Linked DNA regions of Homo sapiens. The protein of the gene in region 3 purifies or fractionates together with the protein of the main gene of each other region. This does not show direct contact. Each region holds a gene or a part of one and is shown on either strand. Other genes may lie near its edges.

What was found.
Region 1: the proteins of ESF1 (region 3) and DDX52 fractionate together in Homo sapiens (co-fractionation; one large-scale study listed by BioGRID). This does not show direct contact.
Region 2: the proteins of ESF1 (region 3) and RBM34 purify together in Homo sapiens (co-immunoprecipitation; one large-scale study listed by IntAct). This does not show direct contact.
Region 4: the proteins of ESF1 (region 3) and LLGL2 purify together in Homo sapiens (co-immunoprecipitation; one large-scale study listed by IntAct). This does not show direct contact.
Region 5: the proteins of ESF1 (region 3) and PUM3 fractionate together in Homo sapiens (co-fractionation; one large-scale study listed by BioGRID). This does not show direct contact.
Region 6: the proteins of ESF1 (region 3) and PIP5K1A purify together in Homo sapiens (co-immunoprecipitation; one large-scale study listed by IntAct). This does not show direct contact.
Region 7: the proteins of ESF1 (region 3) and MPHOSPH10 fractionate together in Homo sapiens (co-fractionation; one large-scale study listed by BioGRID). This does not show direct contact.

What each region holds. Positions count from the first base shown.
Region 1 is NC_000017.11:37,636,947-37,640,446, forward strand, and holds part of DDX52 (probable ATP-dependent RNA helicase DDX52), read right to left. Parts: intron 2,623-3,500; exon of another isoform or gene 2,508-2,622; intron 1-2,507.
Region 2 is NC_000001.11:235,130,683-235,133,966, forward strand, and holds the end of RBM34 (RNA-binding protein 34), read right to left. Parts: intron 1,316-3,284; coding exon 1,031-1,315; 3' UTR 501-1,030; downstream 1-500.
Region 3 is NC_000020.11:13,753,920-13,757,419, forward strand, and holds part of ESF1 (ESF1 homolog), read right to left. Parts: intron 1-3,500. UniProt on the Homo sapiens protein: May constitute a novel regulatory system for basal transcription. Negatively regulates ABT1.
Region 4 is NC_000017.11:75,528,697-75,532,196, forward strand, and holds part of LLGL2 (LLGL scribble cell polarity complex component 2), read left to right. Parts: intron 1-2,366; exon of another isoform or gene 2,367-3,500. UniProt on the Homo sapiens protein: Part of a complex with GPSM2/LGN, PRKCI/aPKC and PARD6B/Par-6, which may ensure the correct organization and orientation of bipolar spindles for normal cell division.
Region 5 is NC_000009.12:2,830,596-2,834,095, forward strand, and holds part of PUM3 (pumilio homolog 3), read right to left. Parts: coding exon 3,436-3,500; intron 2,838-3,435; coding exon 2,762-2,837; intron 750-2,761; coding exon 656-749; intron 434-655; coding exon 367-433; intron 1-366. UniProt on the Homo sapiens protein: Inhibits the poly(ADP-ribosyl)ation activity of PARP1 and the degradation of PARP1 by CASP3 following genotoxic stress. Binds to double-stranded RNA or DNA without sequence specificity. Involved in development of the eye and of primordial germ cells.
Region 6 is NC_000001.11:151,197,227-151,201,351, reverse strand, and holds the start of PIP5K1A (phosphatidylinositol 4-phosphate 5-kinase type-1 alpha), read right to left. Parts: upstream 2,801-4,125; 5' UTR 2,356-2,800; coding exon 2,271-2,355; exon of another isoform or gene 2,226-2,270; coding exon of another isoform or gene 2,165-2,225; intron 1-2,164. UniProt on the Homo sapiens protein: Catalyzes the phosphorylation of phosphatidylinositol 4-phosphate (PtdIns(4)P/PI4P) to form phosphatidylinositol 4,5-bisphosphate (PtdIns(4,5)P2/PIP2), a lipid second messenger that regulates several cellular processes such as signal transduction, vesicle trafficking, actin cytoskeleton dynamics, cell adhesion, and cell motility.
Region 7 is NC_000002.12:71,137,134-71,140,633, reverse strand, and holds part of MPHOSPH10 (U3 small nucleolar ribonucleoprotein protein MPP10), read right to left. Parts: intron 2,145-3,500; coding exon 2,003-2,144; intron 840-2,002; coding exon 772-839; intron 1-771. UniProt on the Homo sapiens protein: Component of the 60-80S U3 small nucleolar ribonucleoprotein (U3 snoRNP). Required for the early cleavages during pre-18S ribosomal RNA processing. Part of the small subunit (SSU) processome, first precursor of the small eukaryotic ribosomal subunit.

The DNA.
Region 1 (3,500 bases), on a different chromosome or scaffold from region 3:
ATATGGTTTGGCTTACACCACATATATATTTTTTTCAAGATAGGGTTTTGTTCTGTCAGCCAGGCTAGAGTATACAGGCATGATCACAGCTCACTGTAACCTCACACTCTTGGGCTAAAGCAATCCTCCTGTCTCAGCCTCCCAAGTAGCTGGGACTACAGACATGTGCTACCACGTGCAGCTAATTTTTTTTTTTCTTTTTGGAGTCTTACTGTGTCACCCAGGCTGGAGTGCAGTGGTGTGATCTCGGCTTCGGCTCACTGCAACCTCCGCCTCCCAGGTTCAAGTGATTCTCCTGCCTTAGCCTCCCAGGTAGGTGAGATTACAGGCATGCGCCACCACGTCCGGCTAATTTTGTATTTTTAGTAGAGACGGGGTTTCACCATGTTGGCCAGGCTGGTTTCGAACTCCTAACCTCAGGTGATCCACCCACCTCAGCCTCCCAAAGTACTGGGATTATAGGCATGAGCCACTGCTCCTGGCCCTATTTTTTGTATAGATGGAGTCTTGCTATGTTGCCCAAGCTGGTCTCAAAATTCCTGGCCTCAACTGATCCTCCTACCTCAGCTTCCCAAAGCACTGGCATTATAGGTGAGCCACTGCTCCTGGCCTCCCTACCAATTCTTTGTTTTGTTGTTTGTTTTTGAGACCGAGTTTCACTCTTGTTGCCCAGGCTGGAGTGCAATGGCGTGATCTCGGCTCACTGCAACCTCTGCCTCCCAGGTTCAAGCGATTCTCCTGCCTCAGCCTCCCAGGTAGCTGAGATTATAGGCATGCGCCACCACGCCCGGCTAATTTTGTATTTTTAGTAGAGACGGGATTTCACCATGTTGGCCAGGCTGGTTTCGAACTCCTAACCTCAGGTGATCCACCCACCTCGGCATCCCAAAGTGCTGGGATTACAAGCATGAGCCACCACGCCCAGCCTTCTTCCCACCAATTCTTAATGAAAAATTAGTTGAGCAAATTTTCCATATGATGGGTGCCAAAACCACTGCTCCCAAATCAGCTGCAGACAAGAGCAGAGATTTCAAAAGAAATTTTAAACAAGTGGAATCAAGGTCCTAAAGCATTTCTTTGAAGAACTGTAACAGAAGATGAAACATGGTTTTACCAGTTTGATCATAAAGACAAAGCACAATTAAACCAATGGCTACCAAGAGGTGGAAGTGGTCCAGTCAAAGCAAAAGTTGACCAGTCAAGAGCAAAGGCAACAGCAACAGGTTTTTTGGATGCTCAAGGCACTTCACTTGTTGACTTTCTGGAAGGCCAAAGAGTAGTATCTGCTTATTATGAGAGTGTCTGAAGAAAGTTAGCCAAAGCTTTAGTAGAAATTTCTACAAAAAAAATTCTGCTAGAATTCTAATTGGGATTGCAATGATTCTGTAGATCACTGTAGGGAGAAAACATTGAGTTGCCTAAAATATTGGTATGCCTCTCCACTCTACTGGATTTTATAACATATAAGGCCATAGTATTTAAAACAAGCTAGTATTGGTGTACAAATACAGAAACAGAATAGAAGAGGTCCAGAGACAGACTTGAATGTATATGGAAAATAAGTATACAATTAAAGTTGCGTTAAAGTCCAATAGAGAAAACACGGATTATCAACATATGGTATTAAGACAATTAGTCAACATAAGATAAAACACCAACATATGGTATTAAGACAATTATGTTATTAAGACAATTATTCAGACATCTGAAAAAAATTTTAGTTCCCTATTCACTCCTTATACCAAATAAAATTTCACAGGGTCAAAGATTTTAATATAACAAATTGAAACTACAAATAAGAAAACATGGAAGTTGTTTTTTTTCTTTTTTTTTTTTTTTTTGAGACAGAGTCTTGCTCTGTCACCCAGGCTGGAATGCAGAGGCATGATCTCAGCTCACTGCAACCTCCACCTCCTGGGTTCAAGCGATTTTCCTGCCTCAGCCTCCCAAATAGCTGGGATTACAGGCGTGCACCACCATATCTGGCTAATTTTTTTATATTTTTAGTAGAGACGGAGTTTCACCATGTTGGCCAGGCTGGTCTCAAACTCCCGACCTCAAGTGGTCAGCCCGCCTCCGCCTCCCAAAGTGTTGGGATTACAGAAGTGAGCCACTGCACCCAGCCTAGAATTTTAAAAAAACGTAATGCGCAGAAGGCCAAAAAGTAAATAAATAAGACAAGTGACATATGACAATCTGGAAACATATTTGTAAACATAATATGGCAGACATAGAGCTAATTTCCTCAATATATGAGGTTTAATAAATTAAGAAGAAACAGAAGAACGTAATATGATAAGGGAACAATGTAATACAATAAGGGTACAACGTACACGAAGAGACAAATTTACAAAAAGAGAAAAGTCTCATACCTTGCTGGAAGGCATCGCAAAGTAGAATAACTTTAAAAAAATTTTGTTCCCTTTATGAGACAGTTGGTACTAAATGACCCAAATCATTACTAATTCACAAGCTATTCAATTTTCCAGTTAAAAATAGATACATGCCTGGCTGGGCGTGGTGGCTCACATCTGTAATCCCAGCACTTTGGGAGCCCAAGGTGGGTGAATCACGAGGTCAGGAGATCGAGACCATACTGGCTAACATGGTGAAACCCTGTCTCTAATAAAAATACAAAAACAAAATTAGCTGGGCGTGGTGTCGGGCACCTGTAGTCCCAGCTACTCGGGAGGCTGAGGCAGCAGAATGGCGTGAACCCAGGAGGCAGAGCTTGCAGTGTGCCAAGATCGCGCCACTGCACTCCAGCCCCAGCCACAGAGTGAGACTCAGTCTCAAAAAAAAAAAAAAAATTGATACATGCCTACACATTTATCATAGATCTACGGCCTAAATACATTTGTTGCCACAATGGTTACAGTACATAGCTGTATATTTCTGGTGGCCCAAAATTTGAATCCTTTTCCTAAGTTTGTGGCGTGTCTTTCTTATTGGTAAAGGTTTTATCAAACTTCCTTGCAGCCAGGGAAGAATGACTTTTACTGCAGCACTTAACAGCAAAAGCATGCAAACAATGTACTAAATGCCCACACAGTAACATGTCAAATTGATCATGGGGCATCCCTACAATGTATGATGGGCTACTATGCTGTGTTACAATGAACAAGGCAAAGTACTTCCTACTGATGCAGTGTTTCTGGTGGATACATCTATTTGTTAACTCTGCAATTCCACTTCTAAGAATTTATGGGACAGATATACTCACATATACATGCAAAGATAAGTAGAATGACACTGCAAAACTACAACAGCAAAAATGTGAAAACAAACTATAATTATCCATCACACAGGAACTTGTTAAATCAATTATGCAATACACACAATGGGATACAATGCTGTGTTAAAATGAACAAGGCAATGTACTTCCTACTGATTCCAAACAACCTCCAAGATACATTGTTTTTAAAAAAGGGGAAGGTAGTAGCAGAGGTTCCCAACAGAGTGTATATAAAATAATCAAAGTATATAAACAAAGTATGAGG
Region 2 (3,284 bases), on a different chromosome or scaffold from region 3:
ATTTTTAGTAGAGATGGGGTTTCACCATGTTGGCCAGGCTAGTCTCAAACTCCTGACATCTGGTGATCCACCCACCTCGGCCTCCCGAAGTGCTGGGATTACAGGCATGAGCCACCGTGAGTGATCTTCTTTATTTTCTTAATAAACTTGTTTTCACTTTACTCTGTGGACTGGCCCCAAATTCTTTCTTAGGCAAGATCCAAGAACCCTTTGTTGGGGTCTGGATCTGGATCCTTTTCCAGTAACACGAGGTTGCATAATAAAGAATTTGGCTGGCCTTTGTCCCCAGTTCCTGGGAGTTCTAGCCCCTTGGAATTGATGAGTGATTCACTCCTGTAATCCTAGCACTTTGGGAGGCCAAGGTGGGAGGATCACTTGAGTCCAGCAGTTTGAGAGCAGCCTGGGCAACAAAGTGAGATACTGAAGCGACATCGTTTGGGGTAATACCCAAGGTTCATTGCTTCATGCCAAGGAAATCAAGAACTTGAGCACACACGGAGTAAGGTTAAGAGCAGAGGTTTAATAGGCAAAAGAGAAAGGAGGCTTGGGTGCAGTGACTCACGCCTGTAATCCCAGCACTTTGAGAGGCCAAGGCAGGTGGATCACCTGAGGTCAGGAGTTCGAGACCAGCCTGGCCAACATGGTGAAACCCCGTCTCTACTAAAAATACAAAAAATTAGCCAGGCGTGGTGGCAGGCGCCTGTAATCCCAGCTACTTGGGAGGCTGAGGCAGGAGAAGCGCTTGAACCCAGAAGGCAGAGGTTGCAGTGAGCCAAGATCACGCCACTGCACTCCAGCCTGGGAGACAACAGCCAAACTCCATCTCAAAAAACAAAACAAAAACAAAAAAACCTTCAAAGGTAGTATCACAATGTGAATAAACTGAGAATGTGGAAGTCTCCACATTTCACATACACCATCCATAAAGAAGTATAAAACTCAACACATGAATAGCAGACGATGCTATCAGCAGATAATAGCACTTTTATTAGCAGTACTCAGCAGGAAAAGAAAAAGCAGTTCCTGGTTGTTATTTCTGTTTTCTCTGTTTCTTAGGGCGTCCACTTTTCTTCTGTCCTTTCTTCTTCGTTTTAAGGAGAACAGCTTTTTCTCCAATAAATAAGCTTTTAGGATGTCCTTCTGCAGTTTTGGAAGTAAAATTAAGTCCCTGCTTAGGTTTACTGACATTCTTCAATCGTGGATTTGAATTTTGTTGTTTAAATTTTTCTTTATTAACAGAACGCATGACTCTGAGTTTTCTCCCCATGAGTTCAGAATTATTTAATTTCAGAGCAAGATGAACAGAATCTGTATTCTGCAAAAGAAAACACAATACATTAATTGCTACCAGAAACCCATCTGCAAAGAAACTAGTGAAAGTGTCACTTTAACAGATGAGAACGACTTTCAAGCTTGCACAGATAAGCCCCATCCAATCCCAGGTGTATCAGCTGCTGCACTCGAAGTCTCCTCATCACCATGCTCGTCACCAGTGTTTCCTCAGAAAGCACTCAAGCTGCCTTGTGAAATGTTCAGCTAAGTCACAATGCTACAGGCTTCGTGGTTTTTTTTTTTCATTGTAAAATGAGGTTCTAGACTAGATTAGTCATATGCAATATTGGCTTTTTTTCTTTTTTCTTTTTTTGAGACGGAATCTCGCTCTGTTGCCAGGCTGGAGTGCAGTGGCACGATCTCGGCTCACTGTGACCTCTACCTCCTGAGTTCAAGCGATTCTCTTGCCTCAACCTCTCAAGTAGCTGGGATTACAGGCGCGGGCCAACATACCCAGCTAATTTTTGTATTTTTAGTAGAGACAGGGTTTCACCACGTTAGCCAGAATGGTCTCGATCTCTTGACCTTGTAATCTGCCCACCTTGCCCTCCCAAAGTGCTGGGATTACAGGCATGAGCCACCGCGCCTGGCCCCCATATGCAATATTTTAAACGAATAAACCTCCTTCGTATAGCCATCTTTCTGTCAAAGCCCCATTGTATTAGCTGACCAGAGGGCAGGGAACGCTCCATTACGAGATGTTGGACTAGACACCCTCTAGGGTTCCATTTAGATCCAAAATTCTGTTATACTTCTGTTCCAATATAGAGCCATTAATGCTAACAACCCTGAATATCCATGAGATGTTTGTTAAAGGACTTTAGAAGCTTATCAAGTAATAGAAGAAAGGGAGCAGACAAGCAGAAAGGTAACTACAATACAGTAACAATGGCAACAAACGCTGTGACAATCTTTCTAAAAAAGCTACCAGGCAATTCTCATCAAGAGTCTTCAAAATGGTAACACATCTTAACCTAGTATATCCTAATGGGGATCTATCTTAAGTAATCTACAATCCAAACTTTTGGGGAAAAAAACATAACCAGGCCAGGCGGGGTAGCTCACACCTATAATCCTAGCACTCTGGGAGGCCAAGGCGGATAGATCACTTGAGCTCAGAAGTTGGAGACCAGCCTGAGAAACATGGTGAATCCTGTCTCTACAAAAAAATACAAGAATTAGCCAGACATGTGGCACACACCTGTAGTCCTAGCTACTCAGGAAGCTGAGATGGGAGGATCGCTAGAGCCTGGGAGGCAGAGGCTGCAGTGAGCTGAGATCGTGCCAAAGCACTCCAGCCTGAGCAACAGAGTGAGACTCTGTCTCAAAAACAAAAAACACATAACCACTGCAATTTCATTATTACAGGGAAAAACAGAGAATTCTACCAAGGTCCAACATGAGAGAAATGACAGTATAAACTCTGTTATATCACTCAATGGAACATGCTTACATAACAGAAAACAACATAAAATAAGATGTAAATATAATTTAAGTTCACAGAGACAAGTTCAACTATAAAAATGGCAGCACAAGGAAAAACTGAAAGGAAATGTAGTAATGGGTTGTTACTGAGAGAAGAAAAATTTATGACATCACATAGTATGTACAGTCAGCTCCCCAAATCCGTGAGTTCAGTATCAGAGGATTCAATCAACTGCAGATAGAAAATACTTGAAAACAACAAATAATATGACAATAAAAAAATTTATTATATATAACAATATACATTCATGCAAATGTGCCATTTTATATAAGGGACTTCAGCATCTGCAGATATATATATACTGTTTGCTATGTGAGAGGGATCCTGGAACCAATACACCGTGGATATCAAGGGATGACAATAGATTATTTTTTTGTTTTGAGATAGGGTCTCACTCTGTCAGTTCGGCTGGAGTGCAGTGGTGCAATCATGGCTCACTACAGCCTTGACCTCCCGTACTTAAGCA
Region 3 (3,500 bases):
TAAGTTAATCTCTCTAGTAGTCTGAGACTAACAATTCCCTTGGTGTGAAAGTGGCAACGTGCTTATAATGGAAGCATGTCTTAGTTTTTGGAAGTTACATTTTGAAGTGCTTTTTTTTACGTGTCATGGTGCTTGCAACTTTCTATCAAATATTTTAGAAAAAGAGTTGCCTCTACTTACTGTCTCTAATTCTTCTCTTCCCATTCTTCCTTCAAACCATACTACTTTCATCCCCCATCATCCCACAAAAACCATTCAATATCACCAGTGAGCTTCACACTGCTAAATCCAATGGTCATTCTCAGCCTGTATTTTATTGACCCATATTCTCACTGAAATGCCTTCTTTATTGGCAGGCTGAATACCCCGCAATTCTGAATTTCCTCCTGCTTCTCTGATAGCCTCTCCAGCTGCTCGGAATGGTCCAGGCTCATGTCCTCTACCTCTAGATGTTAGAGTGCTCCAAGGATCAGCTTTTGAACCTTTCTTTTTTACCTATATTCACTACCTTGTTGTTCTTATTCACTTTCAGAGATTTATACAATGAAGATTCTCTAATTTATATCTCTACCAGCCCTGTACTCTTAACTGTATAACCAACTGATTCCTTGGCATGTCTATTTAGGTATCAATGGGCATCTTGAACTTAATGTATGAAAAAAAAAATTCTTGATGCTCCCTTGCAAACATGTTCCATCCACAAGCTTCATTATCTGAAAATTACTCCAACAGCCATTTGATTGATCTCCCCAATTTGGTCCTTGCCCCCCACTTTAATCTACTTATCTATAGCAGCAAGAATGATCCTGTTAAATATAAAAGTCAGATTTGACTGCTCCTGAGCTCAAAACTCTCCAGTGGTTTCTCATCTCAGTCACAGAAATTCATGTCTTTATAATGGCCTACAAGGCTTTCATGTCTGGCCCCAAACTACCTCTCTGATCTCAGTTACTTCTGTCCTCCACTGTAGTCATACTGTTCTCCTTGGATTCCTCAAACACAAGAGACAAAGTATAGCTTCAAGGATACTCCTATGCTACTTCCTCTGCTCACACAGTCTTCCTGGGCCAGGCTCACTCCCTGACCTCTACTTTCTTTAGTTCCTGGTCAAATATGTTTCTTATATATCTGTCATCTGTTTAGTTTCTCCTTCACCGGAGTATAAGATCTGTGAGTTCAGGGATTTTTATGTTTTGTTCACACAGTGTATAGAATAATTCCCGGCACAGAGTAGGTATTCAGTAAGTATTTGATGGAGTAAGGAAGAGAAGTTGGGGTTCTGTAGAGTGCTGAGTAGAAAAAAGACCAGCTATCCATTTCACTAATATCTATTAGGCCAGAGATAGCTAAGAAAAACAGGACTTTTACCATAATCAAAAATTTAAGATTATAAACAAACATGCCATTATTTATTTCTGGATGGAATTTCATATATATTGTTTATATTCAGCTTGCATTATCTACAAAAAATATTATGTAGATTAACTGGACTATTAATACAGGGGAAGTTATATAAAGAGTTAAAACTGATTACACTTCATTTATACGTGTATTAGAAATTCCTCAACGAGGTACATTTCTTGATGAAGGCCCAACTGGCTAATTATATGCATCACCTTATCTACTCCTTAGTAAGTTGGCAGGATACCTTTAGCAACGCATTGAGATAGGAAATACAACTTCACATACATCAAAATAATTAAGTATAACTTTCTTTAAAAATTTTATAATTCAACATTTTTACTTATTTATAATCCTAATTAATAAAATTGTATTATTACATTTCCATAGGAACTAAAATATTGATAGAAAGAGTAGCTCATTCCAGTTGTTATGCCCACAAACCTGTTATCAGTTCCCTTAATACTTACCCTTAAGAAATTAAACTCCTCATGTTACTATACTGTATAACCCAATGTAAAAAGGTAGAACGTTTAAATAGTCTAAACTAGAATTTCTTCTGAAAAATCAAACCAAACCACAATAAATGTTAGTGATTAAGAGTACTTATTTTCCTGAAGAGGTTAATATTTTGGAGAGTCAAGCCACAGAACCAATGAATGATACGGTATAATCTCATACTGACCCTCCGTGGTTTACTGAAGCATAACATCAAAAAAGTCCTGAGGTTCAGGGTAACTGTTACAGAAAACACACATTTCTTAAGACATAAATTCACTGAAATACACGTCATGAAAGTACTTTGTAGTTTATAACGTTTGTAAGTATCTCTAAGCAAGAAAGTGGTATTATTAGTTCCAATTTCCATATGAATAAACTGAGGTACAGAAAGATTGCTCAATGATCTTATATGTATAGCACACAGAAAAACCCTTTACACTTGCATGTGCATGCGTGCATGTACATAAGGATTCACAGATAACAATACCTCATTAGGGGCCTTCAAAATATTACAGTTTAAGACCTTTGAAACTCATACATTAAAATATCAATTTTCCCCTATTCAATTAAAAGTAAAAAATATATACCCAATGTTGACGATAATTCCGTGAAACTGACACTCTTACTGATTGTTGAAGGTATTATAAGCTGGTACAACACTTCCAGAAAGCAATTTGGCAATAACTTCAAGACACAAAAAGTATTCATGCCCTTTCTTAGTAACTCTATTTCTGGGAAACTATCCTATGAAAATAATTCAAAATATGGAAAAAGCTATAGGTTATTTATAACATCCCAGATACTTGGCATCTGGGATTTAACATTTGAGGTTTTGACACTGGTAGTTTTAACAGCTTGTGAGAGAACCACAGGTTGATCTACAGCACATGTAGAGTTGCTGTGTGAGCAAGGAAGTCACGTAACTAACTAGTGAGTTAAGCCTGAATGCTAGGCATCAGCTTCTCATTGTGGCCTGGTTGTTCTCTACTAGTCCTGACATGCTTGGAAACATTTCTAGGCTGGGAGAGATGAAAAACACACCTCTGTTTTAAAAGTTTTTAAAATTAAAAGGCCCTAAAAAGGCAAGCCAATTACTTGGCTGCTCATGAAAATGAAGAAATTTAAGAAAAGCTTGTTATTTGTGGGTTTGAGATCTGTCCTATTTTTTTTTCAATGTTATAAGTCCACTGTAGTGAAAGATTAGAAATCTGATTGCATATTCAACAACAGAGAAATGGTAAATTAAACTGTAATCTTCTTAACCAGTGGTTGAATTAGGATAGTGGAATTACAGATGATAATCTTTCATTTTACATTTTCACTTCATAAGGTCAACATTACCCTAATACCAAAAACCAATACGAGGAATGAAAACTACAGATCATATTCCTCTTTGCCACAAGTACAAATATTTTTAATAAAATATTACTAAATTAAGCTGGGAATATATAAAAAGATAAGGTACCATGACCAAGGTGGGGTTTATCTGAGGAAATATAAGCAATGCTTATAACTTCCAGTTACAGATAACAGGTGTAAATACCACTTTTAGGTATTTGCCCTACATTACTATGTTTTGTTTGTTTGTTTGTTTGAGA
Region 4 (3,500 bases), on a different chromosome or scaffold from region 3:
CATTGCACTCCAGCCTGAGCAACAAGAGCAAAACTCCATCTCAAAACAAACAAACAAACAAAAAATGGCCCATAATCCCAGGTGATCGCTGTTCATTTAAAAAATAGAAAAGGCAATAGGAGCCCATAGTGGGAAAAAGGAAACATTGTAGAAAGTGTAAAATTAGAGAGCAAAAAATTAGGCCGGGCAAGGTGGCTTATGCCTGTAATCCCAACACTTTGGGAGGCGGAAGCAGGCGGATCACAAGGTCAGGAGTTCGAGACTAGCCTTGCCCACACAGTGAAACCGGTCTCTACTTAAAAATGCAAAATTAGCCAGGCGTGGTGGTGAGCGCCTGTAATCCCAGCTACTCAGGAGGCTGAGGCAGGAGAATCGCTTGAACCCAGGAGGCAGAGGTTGCAGTGAGCCGAGATCGTGCGATTGCACTCCAGCCTGGGCAATAGAGTGAGACTGTCTCAAAAAAAAAGAGAGCAAAAAATTATCCCTCCTGCCTGACAGTCCTTTTCTTTTTTTTTCTTTGAGACGAAGTCTCCTCTGTCGCCCAGGATGGAGCACAGTGGCGTGATCTCAGCTCACTGCAACCTCTGCCTCCCAGGTTCAAGCAGTTCTCCTGCCTCAGCATCCTGAGTAGCTGGGATTGCAGGCAGGCACCACCAGGCCCAGCTAATTTTTGTATTTTTGTATTTTTTGTAGAGACAGGGTTTCATCATGTTGGCCAGGCTGGTCTTGAACTCCTGACTTCAAGTGATCTGCCTGCCTCAGCCTCTCAAAGTGCTGGGATTACAGGCATGAGCCACTGCACCCGGCCCCTGCCAGTCCTTTTATCTTCATCCTTCATCCTTCTATCCTTCATCTCTTTAAAAACAAAAAATAAAAAAAAATTAGGCCGGGCTCTGTGTCTCACGCCTGTAATCCCAGCACTTTGGGAGACCGAGGCAGACGGATCATGAGGTCAGGAGATCGAGACCATCCTGGCCAAGATGGTGAAACCCCATCTCTACTAAAAATACAAAAATTAGCTGGGCGTGGTGGTGCGTGCCTGTAATCCCAGCTACTCAGGAGGCTGAGGCAGGAGAATCGCTGGAACCCAGGAGGCGGAGGTTGCAGTGAGCCGAGATCGCGCCACTGCACTCCAGCCTGGTGACAGAGCAAGACTCCGTCTCAAACTAATAATAATAATAATTTTTAAAAAAAGATTTTTAGTGTCTTTCTAGGCTTCAGGTGTAGTTTTGACTCGTTCTTTGCCGAGTCCTTGCTGTGTGACCCTAGTGTGGTCACTGACCCGTGCTGAGCTTTGTTTTCACAGATGAGAAGATGAGAAAGGTCACTAGCACGTGTGGCCTGCCACACAGCAGGCACCCAGTGAGGGTGGACTCAACTTCCATGAAGCATAAGAGGCATCCGTCTGTCCCAGGCCTTTGGGTGGGCACTTGGGCCTTTTGGAAGTGCCTGATGGGTTTAGGGAATTTGTCTTCTCTGGAAATCAGCTGACGGCTCATGAATTTGTGATATTTTAAAGTCTCTGGCTGGGCATTTTGGCTCATGCCTGTAATCCCAGTGCTTTGGGAGGTGGAGGAGGGAGGATTGCTTGAACCCAGGAGTTCAAGACCAGCCTGGGCAACAGTGAGATCGCGTCTCTACAAAAATTTTTTTAAAAAATTAGCTGGGCATCAGCCAGGCGCGGTGTCTCACGCCTGTAATTCCAGCACTTTGGGAGGCCGAGGCAGGCGGATCACGAGGTCAGGAGATCGAGACCATCCTGGCTAGCACAGTGAAAACATGTCTCTACTAAAAATACAAAAAATTAGCTGGGCATGGTGGTGGGCACCTGTAGTCCCAGCTGCTCGGGAGGCTGAGGCAGGAGAATGGTGTGAACCCGGGAGGCAGAGCTGGCAGTGAGCCGAGATCGCGCCACTGCACTCCAGCCTGGGCGACAGAGCGAGACTCCATTTCAAAAAAAAAAAAAAAAATTAGCTGGGCATCGTGGTGTGCACCTGTTGTCCCAATTACATGGGATCGTAGGAGGATCGCTTGAGCCCAAGAGTTTGAGGCTGCAGTGAACTATGATGGCGCCACTGCACTCCAGCCTGGGTGACAGAGTGAGACTCTAACTCAAAAAGAGAAAAAAAGTCTCTAGGGGTCAGAAGTTTTTCAGCGAGGACCTTTTTCAGGAATTGAGGGCAGCAGTGGAGGGCGCGGCTTCTCCTAAATGGACCTTGCATTCCAGTGGCCCTTGATGCTTCCCTTGCTCCTTGGGAGGGCCAAGAGTGAGAGCCGGTTGCCTGGGAGTCTTTCCTGTGGTGGGGATGTCGGAGAGTGCAGGATTAAACCTGCTGTGAGTTCTGCCCCAGCTGAGGAGTGCTTGCTGGGTACACCCTCCTCACCCTGCTGGGTGGCAGGGCAGAGAGCACAGGCCTGTGCTGCTCTGTTGGCATTAGGAGACTTTCTAGGAATGCCATTGTGCCCCCTTTCAACCTTGCTTGGGGAGAGGATGTCCTCTCCTGCCAGGACTTCCTGGCCCCGGGACCCTCCCTTTGGAAGACGAAGTGCTGCCTGGGACCAGGTGGCCCATGAGCCCCTGCCCGCACTGTGGGAGATCTGCGCATCTCTGGCAAGAGCCTCCAGGAGCCATCTAAGGAGTTTAGTTTCCCCGGGGAGCTATTCGGCCTTCCTGGTCTTTCCAGATGAGTCAAAAGCAGCTGTTGAGACCTCTGAGTTGGGGGCCAGAATGGAGGCCCAAGAGACCAATGTTCTTTCTCCTGGGCCGGCTGCTTTGAGCAGCACTGGCAGCCTGGACTCATTTGTCCTCAATCCTCAACTCTGAGAGGCCCTCTTATCTGTCTTAGGTGATATCGTTCTCAGGGTTCCTCCTGGGGCGAGGCACGCCAGGTCTGCTTGGCAACGCTGTTTTCCTCTGTCAGGAGCAGTTTGCAGAGAGAAAACTGGGGACAGGGCAGGAGACGGGCGTCCCCCAGCGGGGCCACCAGCACTGTTTGCCCTCCCCAGCCCTGGCTCCCTAGGAATTCCAAGGAGACCCTCGCTCACTGTGCCCGTGGCCATGGCTTTGCTCAGGTCCCTTTGGGGTGGCCTTCCCCACAGCCCTGCCTCTCAGAGGAAACTGGCTTTGAATACTCACCCCTCTCTTCTTCCCAGGAACCACAGCGAATTCTTGAGCTAGGAGAGGCTGCTCTGGGCGTGGGGACGAGGAGGCTGCAAGGCACCTGACTCTACCCTTCAGGAATTCGGCAGAGACTGGAGCCTTCTCTCGAGACACCTGACTTAGTGTTCCCAGAGTTTGATGAGAGGGACATCTGGGCACAGGACCATATGACTGTAATAAATTATATATATGTATATATACACACACACACACACACACACTTTTTTTTTTTTTTTTTTTTTGAGACGGAGTCTTACTCTGTGGCCCAGGTTGGAGTGCAATGGCATGATTTCGGCTCACTGCAGTCTCCCCAGGTTCAAGTGATTCTCCCACCTCAGCC
Region 5 (3,500 bases), on a different chromosome or scaffold from region 3:
TTTACTATGCTACAATACCAGTCTACTTCAAAAGTGCTTATCTGTTGCTCACTCTGTCTTTAAAACTTTTGAATGCCAACAAATCAGAAGGTGAGGGTATACCTCCATCAAAGTCATAAATTTCAAGGAGATTTGCAGGACATTTCTCATGTATCTTTTTAGGAATGAAGGCAGTACCATAATTTTACATTAATTTCGATAATTGTATTTAAGATGATACTCTCTAAAAACAACACAAGCATCTGCTGAGAGCCATTACTATTACTTATAAAGACCACAGACTTCCTATCTCGCATCTGAGCACAGTTGGAAACCATGTCTTCAAAAGACAAAGAAAAAATGTATTTTATACATAAAACAACTTACCCATACATGAGAAATTTCTTAACAATATTTCTCGAATATTTGGCTTTACTTAACTCAACCAAATCATCTGAAAAACAAAAATACATTACAGTGACTTCAGATCTCATTTCAGTTCTCTGGAAACAAAGGGAGGAAATTTGTCCCAGGCAAGGAAAAAATAAAAACAAAAAAGGATCTGGAGAAGACAAACCTAAACAAAAATTGTTTTCTAGGACAGTCTTGGGTATTTTAAGAGAAAACAAGTGACTTATTGCAAATGATAACATAATCTTTAGTATGTAATAAATACCTCGCAATTCTTCAAAAGCCTGTTTTCTCTGTTCTTCATTACCATACTGAATGTAACACTGGATCACACGAGTTGAATCGTGTGCAAATGCAATCTGCAGGAAAAAGTTTGAGTTAGACTAATTCTCTTTTGAGACTTATGTTTCTCACTAATTTATTGTGACCTCTTCTGGAATTTCTTGTTAGAAAAAAAGGTAGTCTTCATGAATAAAATCAAACCTAGATTACTGAGAACTACTTGTTTTAATTATACAAAACATCATTCTGTTGTTTTGAGGCCTACCATATTTGATAGGTACAATAATGACATTGAGGCAAGGATAAATTTAACCATTTTGCAAGACTCCTCTCATTGCAATTAAAACCAAAGCAAACCAAACCATCTGATGATTATACAGACTATACTTCTCATTTCTTTGATAAGTTACCGTCCCTAAAAGGGAAATATTTCTGTTTAAAAGGTCTGTTACTGTATGATTTTTATATAAGTGATCTAAGAATGTTTGGCTTTGGCAACCAGAAGTATACCTGTAAGATCAATCTAAAAGTCTTCCTAAAGAAATAAATACAACTATGTCCATAAACACTGTCAATTATATAATAAGTTAATCATCCATTTGTCACATTTTCATTATAATTCCTGCACATATATCCAGTTATATTTCTAGAAGAGTTGTTGTGTTTTGAATCTGATTCTCTAACCCATTCCTCCTCATGACTGTTGGAAGGACCCACTGACCAATTTTCTAGAGCGCCCTCCACGAATCATCCATCATGCAAAATTATTTTCACTACGCCACAGTACCAGTCTACTTCAAAAGTGCTTATTTGTTGCTCACTCTAAAGTTTCTGAATTCCAACAAATCAGGTGAGTGTATACTTCCATCAAAGTCATAAATTTCAAGATTTGTAAGACATCTCTTAAGTATCTCTTAAAAAAATAAGGCTGTTTTTGTGCATATATTGAGCACCTATTATATAATCAACATAAATGCCTTAAACATAGTGTTCTTATTTATAACTCAAAGCAACAATAAGAATGAGCTGTTACTATTCCCACTTTACAGATGAGGGAAGTAAGGTTATGAGAAGGAACTCGCTATCTCTATTACCCCGAGGAAGAATCTTACTTCCCTGAGTCCCAGATACATCAAATATACAACACGGATGATGACATACAGTAAACGACACAATGCATGTGCTGGTTAACACAATTCCTAGCCTATAGTAAATAATCAATAAAGAAGTTATTGTTATTGTTTAAAGGCACACATATTTTAAGCAGCCCAGCCAGGATTTGAATACCAAACTCACTTCTAACACCATGGTCATACAGCTGTGACCTCAGGGTAGTTGAGAAAGAATCCTGAGTGAAATATTTATAAATTGTCGGAGCTGAGGGGGCAGTCCTATCGTAAAAAGATCCTGCTGAATTTATAAGAAAGCGGCAGCTGATGACTTGCTACTTTCCTTCAAACTGTAATATAGCATCTGGTTAGACCTATGCATCTGACTTGACAAAGGCTGCCCCTCCAGGTGCCGTAAAACTATGAGAATCTGTTGTCTTCCAAGCCATTATGTATTAATCCAAATACACAAGAGTCACAGGAAATTTATTACAAAACAGGATTAAGCAGCAACAATGAAAACTACTTTAGAATTCTGAAATGATTATATTTTAGTTAAAGATCTTCGCATGATGTTTACAAAAGCATGGAGGAAAAGAATGAAGTAATATGTTCACATCACAAATATAAAGAAGTTGGCAATTGAGAACATACTAAATTATATGGAGTTTAGAACAACACATTTATAAAATACTACTGAACTAATAAACTTCTCAAGATAACTTTAAGGAAACACTGGCTTATTTTAAGAATTATTAAAAAATGACTGAAAAGACTGATAATCTTTTCAAAACTCCCTAGCAGTAAGGTCCCTCACTTTTAAATTTTTATGTAGTTCAGTGTTATGGAAGATATTTAAAACTTTTGGCCAAATACACCGGAAACAATGATAAGATCATCTGTCATGAATGGTCAGCTACTCCTGAGAGTGAGGCAACTTCAACTGTTAAAAATTGCAACAATGAGTATATGCTACTTACAGTTTTAATTTTCCCTTGAATCAACTTCTGCAAATCACTCATTAACTTTACTCTTTTTTCTTTGTCACAGTCTTTTCTACAAATGAGGAGAGGAAGGAAACACAGTTGAAATAAAGAAGTTATTTTAAACACACAAAATTAAAAACTGTACCAGTATATGTTCTCCAAGTTCAGCATGATTTTCTTTTCTAAGGCAGCAAACCTCTGCCATTAAAATTACTATTCCAGAGCAGCCAGACAAAAGTAATTTTCTCAAAGGCAGAAACTCATCTCAAAAGGTATAATTTTAGGTATCAATCCAAATCTTAACAGCCAGAACTTCAGAAGTAAAAAAAATAATAAAACAAATCTAAGATAACAAATACTGAAGTATCTCAAAATCTAGCTGATAAGAAATTGTCCTTCATTTTCTCAGAAATCTCTCAGGAAGAATGTCAAATTTATTTCAACCTCATACATTTTCATAAGCATATCCGATGCCATCATAATGATTCTACACACTTCTGTGACGGGCAGACTTCCAAGTACTGATGTCTCTAATGGGGTGTCATGAGGACCCCCTCAATAACCCAAGTGCTATGTCATTTATTTTAGGACATCTCACTATTTACAAGGTACACTGACTTCTCCACTGTTGCAAAGGGACTAACAAAGGCATCTTTAGGTAGAATTACCTTCTTAAAATCTCCCACATCTGCTTTGCCCGAACAACAATGTCATAGTTGGTTTTATCACTGAG
Region 6 (4,125 bases), on a different chromosome or scaffold from region 3:
AAACATTTATACAATCTGTATTATTAACTGTTAGTGAGAGGATCTGACAGAAAACATAAAGACCTACAAAAATACCAAAGAGTACAAAGCAAACACCTGACTTAATAGTTGAGAAGTTTGTTTATGGACCATACACAACCCTTCTTCTTTCTGGGTTGGGGATTAGAGGGGAAGCAGGTTTCAAATTAAGGAGCTACTCTATTAAAAATAAAAACCCAGGTGGGGCACGGTGGCTCACGCCTATAATCCCAGCACTTTGGGAAGCCAAGGCGGGCGGATCACAGGGTCAGGAGATCGAGACCATCCTGGCTAACACGGTGAAACCCCGTCTCTACTAAAAATACAAAAAACAAAATTAGCCAGGCGTGGTGGTGGGCGCCTGTAGTCCCAGCTACTCGGGAGGCTGAGGCAAAAGAATGGCGTGAACCCGGGAGGCAGAGCTTGCAGTGAGCCGAGATGGCCCCACTGCACTCCAGCCTGGGCGACAGAGCGAGACTCCGTCTCAAAAATAAATAAATAAATAAATAAATAAATAAATACCCTGTCACTTTTACTTTATCCTATTTCATGCTTATAATGCAGCATGAGTTGTTCTGGTCCCCTAATACTTTTATAGGAAAGGTAAAAAATCCCCTCTCAACAAACTAAAAATAGAGATTTATTAAAAATAAATAAAACTGCAGCTTATTAAGAAGATATGTGTGACTAGATATTTCAGCATCTGAGCTGGAATGTGAAAGGTGGAAGGAACCCTATTCAGCAAATTCTAAACAGCAAAAACGCAACACCAGGCCTGAGGAAATACCAAAATCTCAAGCAAAGCATCCAACATCTGGCAGCGTCTATTCCAGTGTAGAAGCAGCAGTTACTGTGAAACACCAGACACTTCTGATGGAAGCGCTCAGTTTCTGACTCACCTCCCGCCCCCCCACCCGACACACATACACACACTTTCTCCCCTACACACAATCTACTGCTTTTCTTGTGAGCCTCCTCAGCCCTCCCTCAATCTTCATTCGTTTTTAACTATTAATACGCTGAGCTCTCTACATTAACCTGGCTCCATTCTCCAAATTCCAATCTCCTGATACAGCGTAAGCATTCTTCCAGTCCATTTTTCTATTATGCAATACTCCCCCACAACACTTACAGTCACCCCCCCACCCATCTTTCTTCTTCTCAGGCCTAATTTCCAAAACATCACTTCTCGCAGTCTCTACTGCAATTCAAGACTCCATTCCATCTTTCCCATCTGTTTTTAAGGTCTTTGACCTTAATTTCCTACATTCCTTAGACTCTCTTCAAAATTTCCATTCCTTCCCAAAGTTGGGCAGTTTAGAGTTGGGAATCACCAAAGGAATTAGTCTGAGAAAGTATGTATGTGTGTCTGTGTGCCTGTGCGGCCCTAAGGGTGGGGGTGCGAAGTGAGAAGGGGTGACACATTAGGGGGGAGTATCTGAGGGAAAAGATGGCTTCAACAACTCCCGCCCACCCAACAAAATTCACGATTCCCTACCTCTCCAGAAATCGAAAGCGTCCAATAACTTTTCGATATCTTTTAAGTCCCATGGCTTCTCTTCAACATTTTCATCCAATTAGCCCACAATCAACTTAGATTCCACCTGCCTCTCACACTAAGTAGTTCTCTCTACTTCTTAGGCCTCCATTTACTTTCTTAGTTTCTCTACTCCCTTCCGTTTCTCTTGTTTCCTACCGCAACTTCTTTTTTTTTTTTTTTGAGACAGGGTCTCACTCTCTCGCCCAGACTGGAGAGCAGTGGCCCAATCTCGGCTCACCGCAAGCTCTGCCTCCCAGGCTCAAGGGATTATCCTGCCTCAGCCTCCCAAGTAGCTGGGATTACAGATGCACGCCACTACTGTCCGGATAATTTTTGTATTTTTAGTAGGGACGAGATTTCTCTATGTTGGCCAGGCTCGTCTCGAACTTCTGACCTCAAATGATCCGCCCGCCAAGGCCTCCCAAAGTGCTGAGATTACAGGCGTGAGCCACCGCGCCGGGCCACCCTACCCCCACCTTCAATCTCCATCCGTCCTCCTCAAAGACAACCAAAGTTTTCGACAACTTCTTAATCAAACTTATCCTTTCCTCAAACTCCTGCCCGCTCATAAATCCCTATTTGAAAGCCCAGCTCGCGCCCACTTACCGGTAACACGTAGGACATTCCCAGCTACAGGTACCCTCTTAGGTCTCGCTCTTCCTCCCATCGCATATTCCTCACCAGCTCCCTACCCACGCCCTGCCGGGCTTACCTGAGGACAAGGTACAGGAAGGGACCGCGGGATCAAAGGATGAAAAACCGACCGAAGACGACGGCCCGGAGGAGGCCGACGCCATCTTAGCAGCCCCCTCCCCCTCAGCGGCCTGGCTCTCTTTCAATCCGGTTCTTCCTCTTCTCGGAATCGAATCTTCCCAACGTCTCTTTACAGAACCCGCGTTCTGTGGGCCACCTCCCCGCCCCCTCCGGGGCCTCCCTCAGACACGTCGAGCCGGCTCCTGGACCAGCTCAAGGCCACACCATTCGCCTGGCATGGGGAAGAACTCACGTCCCGCACCCCCTCCACAAGTTTAACCGCTTTCCACAGGGGATACTTTCCCCTTTCACAGAAGAGTAAGCTTAAGCTGGCTGCTGGGACCTTGCGCCCAGACCAAGCCACATCTGAAAAAAAAACGAGGCATGAAAAGTCCCAAAGGAGCGAACGCCCCTTCTCCGTCCTTCCTAACCACGGCCTGTTAATCGCCCAACCCGGCCGCTTCACTCCGGGTAGCCAAGCAAAAAATCCGAGCACTGCGCATGCGCCCGACCTTCTCGGGGCATCAGCCCACTCATTGGGGAGAAAAAAGGAGCAAAACCAATCGGGAGGCTGCTAATGGTCACGTGAGGTGGGTCCTCACGCCCTGACGAGTCCACGGGTGGAAGATGTGCGCGCGCGGGTTGGCCGACAGTCCCTACGGTGGCTCGGCAGGTCCTCTTAGGTTCAGTTCTTTGCTAGGACTGGGTCGAGTGATCTGAACTCGGGACAAGAGTCGGTCCGCCAAGTCCTCTGAAATTCCTAACCCAGGAAAGAACTCTCTGCGGGAGTACTGGTGTCAAGTCAGAGACGTTAAGGTGTCGAATATCACAAAACATTTAATACCACCAAGAACTCTTCTTAGTCTTTTTCCTGTTTTACTACTCTTGTTTACTATTTGATTAAACGTGCGTGCATGTCTTACCTTCCTCGGAATGGCATTCGAAATAGATCTGTGTTTTGTTTGCCTCAAGCACAAAGTTAGGCACTGCACAGTGACGGAGTTCAGTAAATATTTGATGCATGAATCAGTGAAGACCTGTCAAAAAAGGGCACGGGAGGCTATCAGGGACTTATCACAACCTTCCCGCGACCCAACCCCTTTAGCCTCCAACTGTCAATTATCTGTGCTCCAAAGGGCATGGAGATACACAGAAAAATTTCTCCCATTGTAGTCTTCGTAGTAACTGCTCGTTTTTAACAAAGTACCCCGTAGGCTATGAACCCTGGTGGGAAGACCAGTCTCTCTGAGCAGACTGTAAAACTTCTGGGGAGCAAGGACTGTGTTTGGTTCACTCTTGTATCTCCAGCTCCTCCAGTGACTTCGTACATAGTAGGGGCTCCATAATTATCTGTGGAATGAATAAATAAAGAGGAATGGTAAAACATTCGGGGTAAGAGTCGGTCAGATAGATCCTCTCAAACTCATGGCCCATGAAATAACTCCATTAAAACAGGTTTTGTGGCCGGGCGCGGTGGCTCACGCCTGTAATCCCAGCACTCTGGGAGGCCGAGGCGGGTGGATCACGAGGCCAGGAGATCGAGACCATCCTGGCTAACACGGTGAAACCCCGTCTCTACTAAAAATACAAAAAATTAGCCGGGCGTGGTGGCGGGCGCCTGTAGTCCCAGGCTACTCGGGAGCCTGGGGCAGGAGAATGGCATGAACCTGGGAGGCGGAGCTTGCAGTGAGCGGAGATCGCGCCACTGCACTCTAGCCTGGACGACAGAGCGAAACTGTCTCAAAACAAAACAAAACAAACAAACAAAAAAAACAGGTTTTGTAACCCCCAGAATGACCTGGTTATCCTCTTTC
Region 7 (3,500 bases), on a different chromosome or scaffold from region 3:
ACACCATTGAGAAATGGTTTTAAAATTGTAGAACTACCACAATGCTAGGGTTTGAATGTCCCCTCCAAAACTCATGTGGAAACTTAATCCCTGATGTGGCAACACTCAGATGTGGGGCCTTCTAGGACGTGACTGGATCACCAGGGTTTTGCCCTCATGAATGGCAGTTGCATTTATGGATTAATGGGTTATCATCAGTGGGGGAATGGTGGCTCTTAAGAAGAGCAAGAGACACCTGAGCCAGCATCTTAGCATGCTCAGCCCTTTCACCATGTGATGCCCTGCACCACCTTGGGACTCTGCGGAATCCCCACTGGTAAGAAGGCCCCTCGACCTTGGACTTCTCAGCCTCCATAACTGTATTCCTTTTAAGTCACCCAGCTTCAGATATTCTGTTATAAGTAACAGAAAAAAGACTAGGACATATATACTGAATAATTTACCACACCAGATACTGTGCCTAAGCCAAGGGTTCTGGGTGCAACCATCACAGGTCAGCCACCAGCTTCACTGAGCACCGCCCAAAAGGTCAGCAAGACTCACGAGAAAGGATAATGGCTTCTTGCTCCTCTCAGGCACAATACTCGTCTTTCCTGGATACTACTGAAGAGCAGTACCTCACACAACAAAAGCTGACTAGGTAGCCTAGATTTAAGGTTTGTGAACACTAAGTGAAAATAAAAAGCAATAGTCCTACTCTCAAAGTACTCTCACATTATTTCTAAAAATCTTGGTGACATTTTGATTAAGTTAAATTTAATTCTTACTGACCTGATCTCTTATCCTCTGTTTAATGATATCTTCCAGTTGAAGGGTGGTTTCCTCTGTAATCACAGGTGCTAAAGGATATACAACGTTTATTCATTAGGTAGATATCCACTAGACCATTGATTCAGTGCAGTCCTTGGACCCACAGCATCAGCAACACGTGGGAACTTGTTAGAAATGCAAATTCCTGGGCCACCCCCATACTTCCTGAATCAGAAAGTGGGGAAGAGGGACAGCTATCTGTGCTTTAACAAGCCTTGTGATGCTCCCTGAAGTTTGAAAACCACAAAACTAGGATACATATGGTAGTAAGTGCTAATACTTTACCCAAGGTACCCAGGGACTCTTCCCCTCTTTTCCATTCTCTCTTCCATTGAAATAAAATGAAAACTCATTTTGATGTAATGGGTACAAGAAAGAAGTCAATGAGATGACCACAGTTTCAGGTTGAAGTTCAAAATTTAATCAGTGGACCATGACAGGATGCAAGCCTTCAAAACAGATTACTACAAGAAAGCTGATTACAAACTATACATTAGGTATCATTAGCGTATTGTTAAATTTTTTGGGTGGATTAATGGTACTGTGATTACATAGGAGAATGTCCTAGTTCTTAGACGATATCTGCAAAAGTACTTAAAAGTGAAGTGCCATGAGATTGGCAACTTACTTAAAAAAAGGGCACATATACAATCTTACATATGCTAGGGAGAGAAAGCAAATATAACAAAATGGTAACTGGTGAATCCAATTGAATAGCATATAGGTGTTCACTGTAGTATTTTTTCAACTCTTCTGTGTTTATAAGTTGATTTTTTCTTTTTTGACAGAGTGTCGCTCTGTTGCCCAGGCTGCCCACGCTGGAGCACACTGGCACAACCTTGGCTCACTGCAACCTCCCCTTTCTGGGTTCAAGCAATTCTCCTGCCTCAGCCTTCCGAGTAGATGGGATTCTGAAATCTGCCACCGTATCTGGCTGATTTTTGTATTTTTAGTAGAGACGGGGTTTCACCATGTTGGCCAGGCTGGTCTCAAACTCCTGACCTCAGGTGATCCGTCTGCCTCGGCCTCCCAAAGTGCCGGGATTACAGGTGTGAGCTACCATGCCAAGCCATGTGTTTACAAGTTTTTAAAATAAAAAGTTGAGGGAAAAGAAACACCACCCCAAATCTTTGTATGAAATGGAACCATGGAAAAAGCACAGACATGAAAACTACAGAAGAGGGCACCATACCCATCCGGACAGCATGGTCAAAGTGTAGGGTCTCCTCCAGGAGGCTGTTCTCTGGCCTCTTCTGTGCTGTCACTTCCCCCTGAAGCTGCCACGGCTTTTTTTCTAACAACTCTTTTTCTAAAGATGCAATTTTTTCATTCATCTAAGAAAGAGATAAAATAACTAGTATACATTTAGAAAATAAAATCTTATATTTGTGTAAAAGCAAAAAATAATTTAAAAAGTGGGAAAGCAAGAAACGTACTGTTCTACGATTCTGTTCTTGCCATCTTTTTATTCTGTCGATGACTTCCTATTTCTGCTGCCTATGGTGGGGTGAGCTGCAAACAATTTCTTTTCCTGATTAATTTAAAATGCCATGTTTATAATATACTAAACGCCCCCAGAAGCTTTTGAGTTTGTTTCTGGGCTCTATTCTATTCAAGTGATCTATCTATTCGCAAGTCAAGTAATTCTTTGATTAGAATATTAGTATCTGATGGAGTCTGACCCTTTTGACTCCAAACTCAAATTCTTACTCTAACTTCTTTTTTTAAAATTTTTTTGAAGCAGAGTCTCGCTCTGTCGCCTAGGCTGGAGTGCAGTGGTGTGATCTCAGCTCACTGCAACCTCCGTCTCCTGAGCAATTCTCCTGCCTCAGCCTCCCGAGTAGCTGGAATTACAGGCGTGTGCCACCACGCCCGGCTAATTTTTGTATTTTTTAGTAGAGACGGGGTTTCACCAAGTGCTGGGATTACAGGCGTGAGCCACCATGCCTGGCCATTATCTCTAACTTTTAAAAGACAACAATGATGACTTCAGTGTATAAAATGCCAGCCTTTTCAGCTACCTTACAGAATTCTCTTATTTTCCTAATATCAATTCAGTTTATCCATTCGGTTTCCTCTCCAAATACCAACACTTTCATTTTTCACTCTTAGTGGAATATAAATACATCTGCAGTATTCCTAATCTTTTTTTTTTTTTTTTTTTTTTGAGACAGTCTCGCTCAGTTGCCTAGGCTGGAGAGCAGTTGCGTGATCTCAGCTCACTGCAACCTCCACCTCCTAGGCTCAAGCAATCCTCTTACCTTGGACTCCCAAATAACTGGGACCACAGGCGCGTGCAACCACGCCTGACTAATTTTTGTATTTTTTGTAGAGACGAGGTCTTACCATGTTGCCCAGGCTGGTCTCGAACTCCTGAGCTCAAGCAATCCTCCTGCCTTGGTCTCCCAAAGTGTTGGGATTACAGGCATGAGCCACCGCACCTGGCAGTTTTCCTCATCTCTTATCTTTATCTTTTGTAGTTACACTGGCCTATGCGTCTAAAAGAATGTTAATCAACAGTGGTAATTGTAATACTGGACATCTTGTCTTATTCCTGATCTTAAAGGGATGTTTCTAGAATGATGCATGCATCATGCATGATGGCAGTTTTTGGCTTAAATGTATTTATATTCCGCTAGGAGTGAAAAAAAAAATTAGAAATGAATATTGAATTTTATCAAATGTCTTTC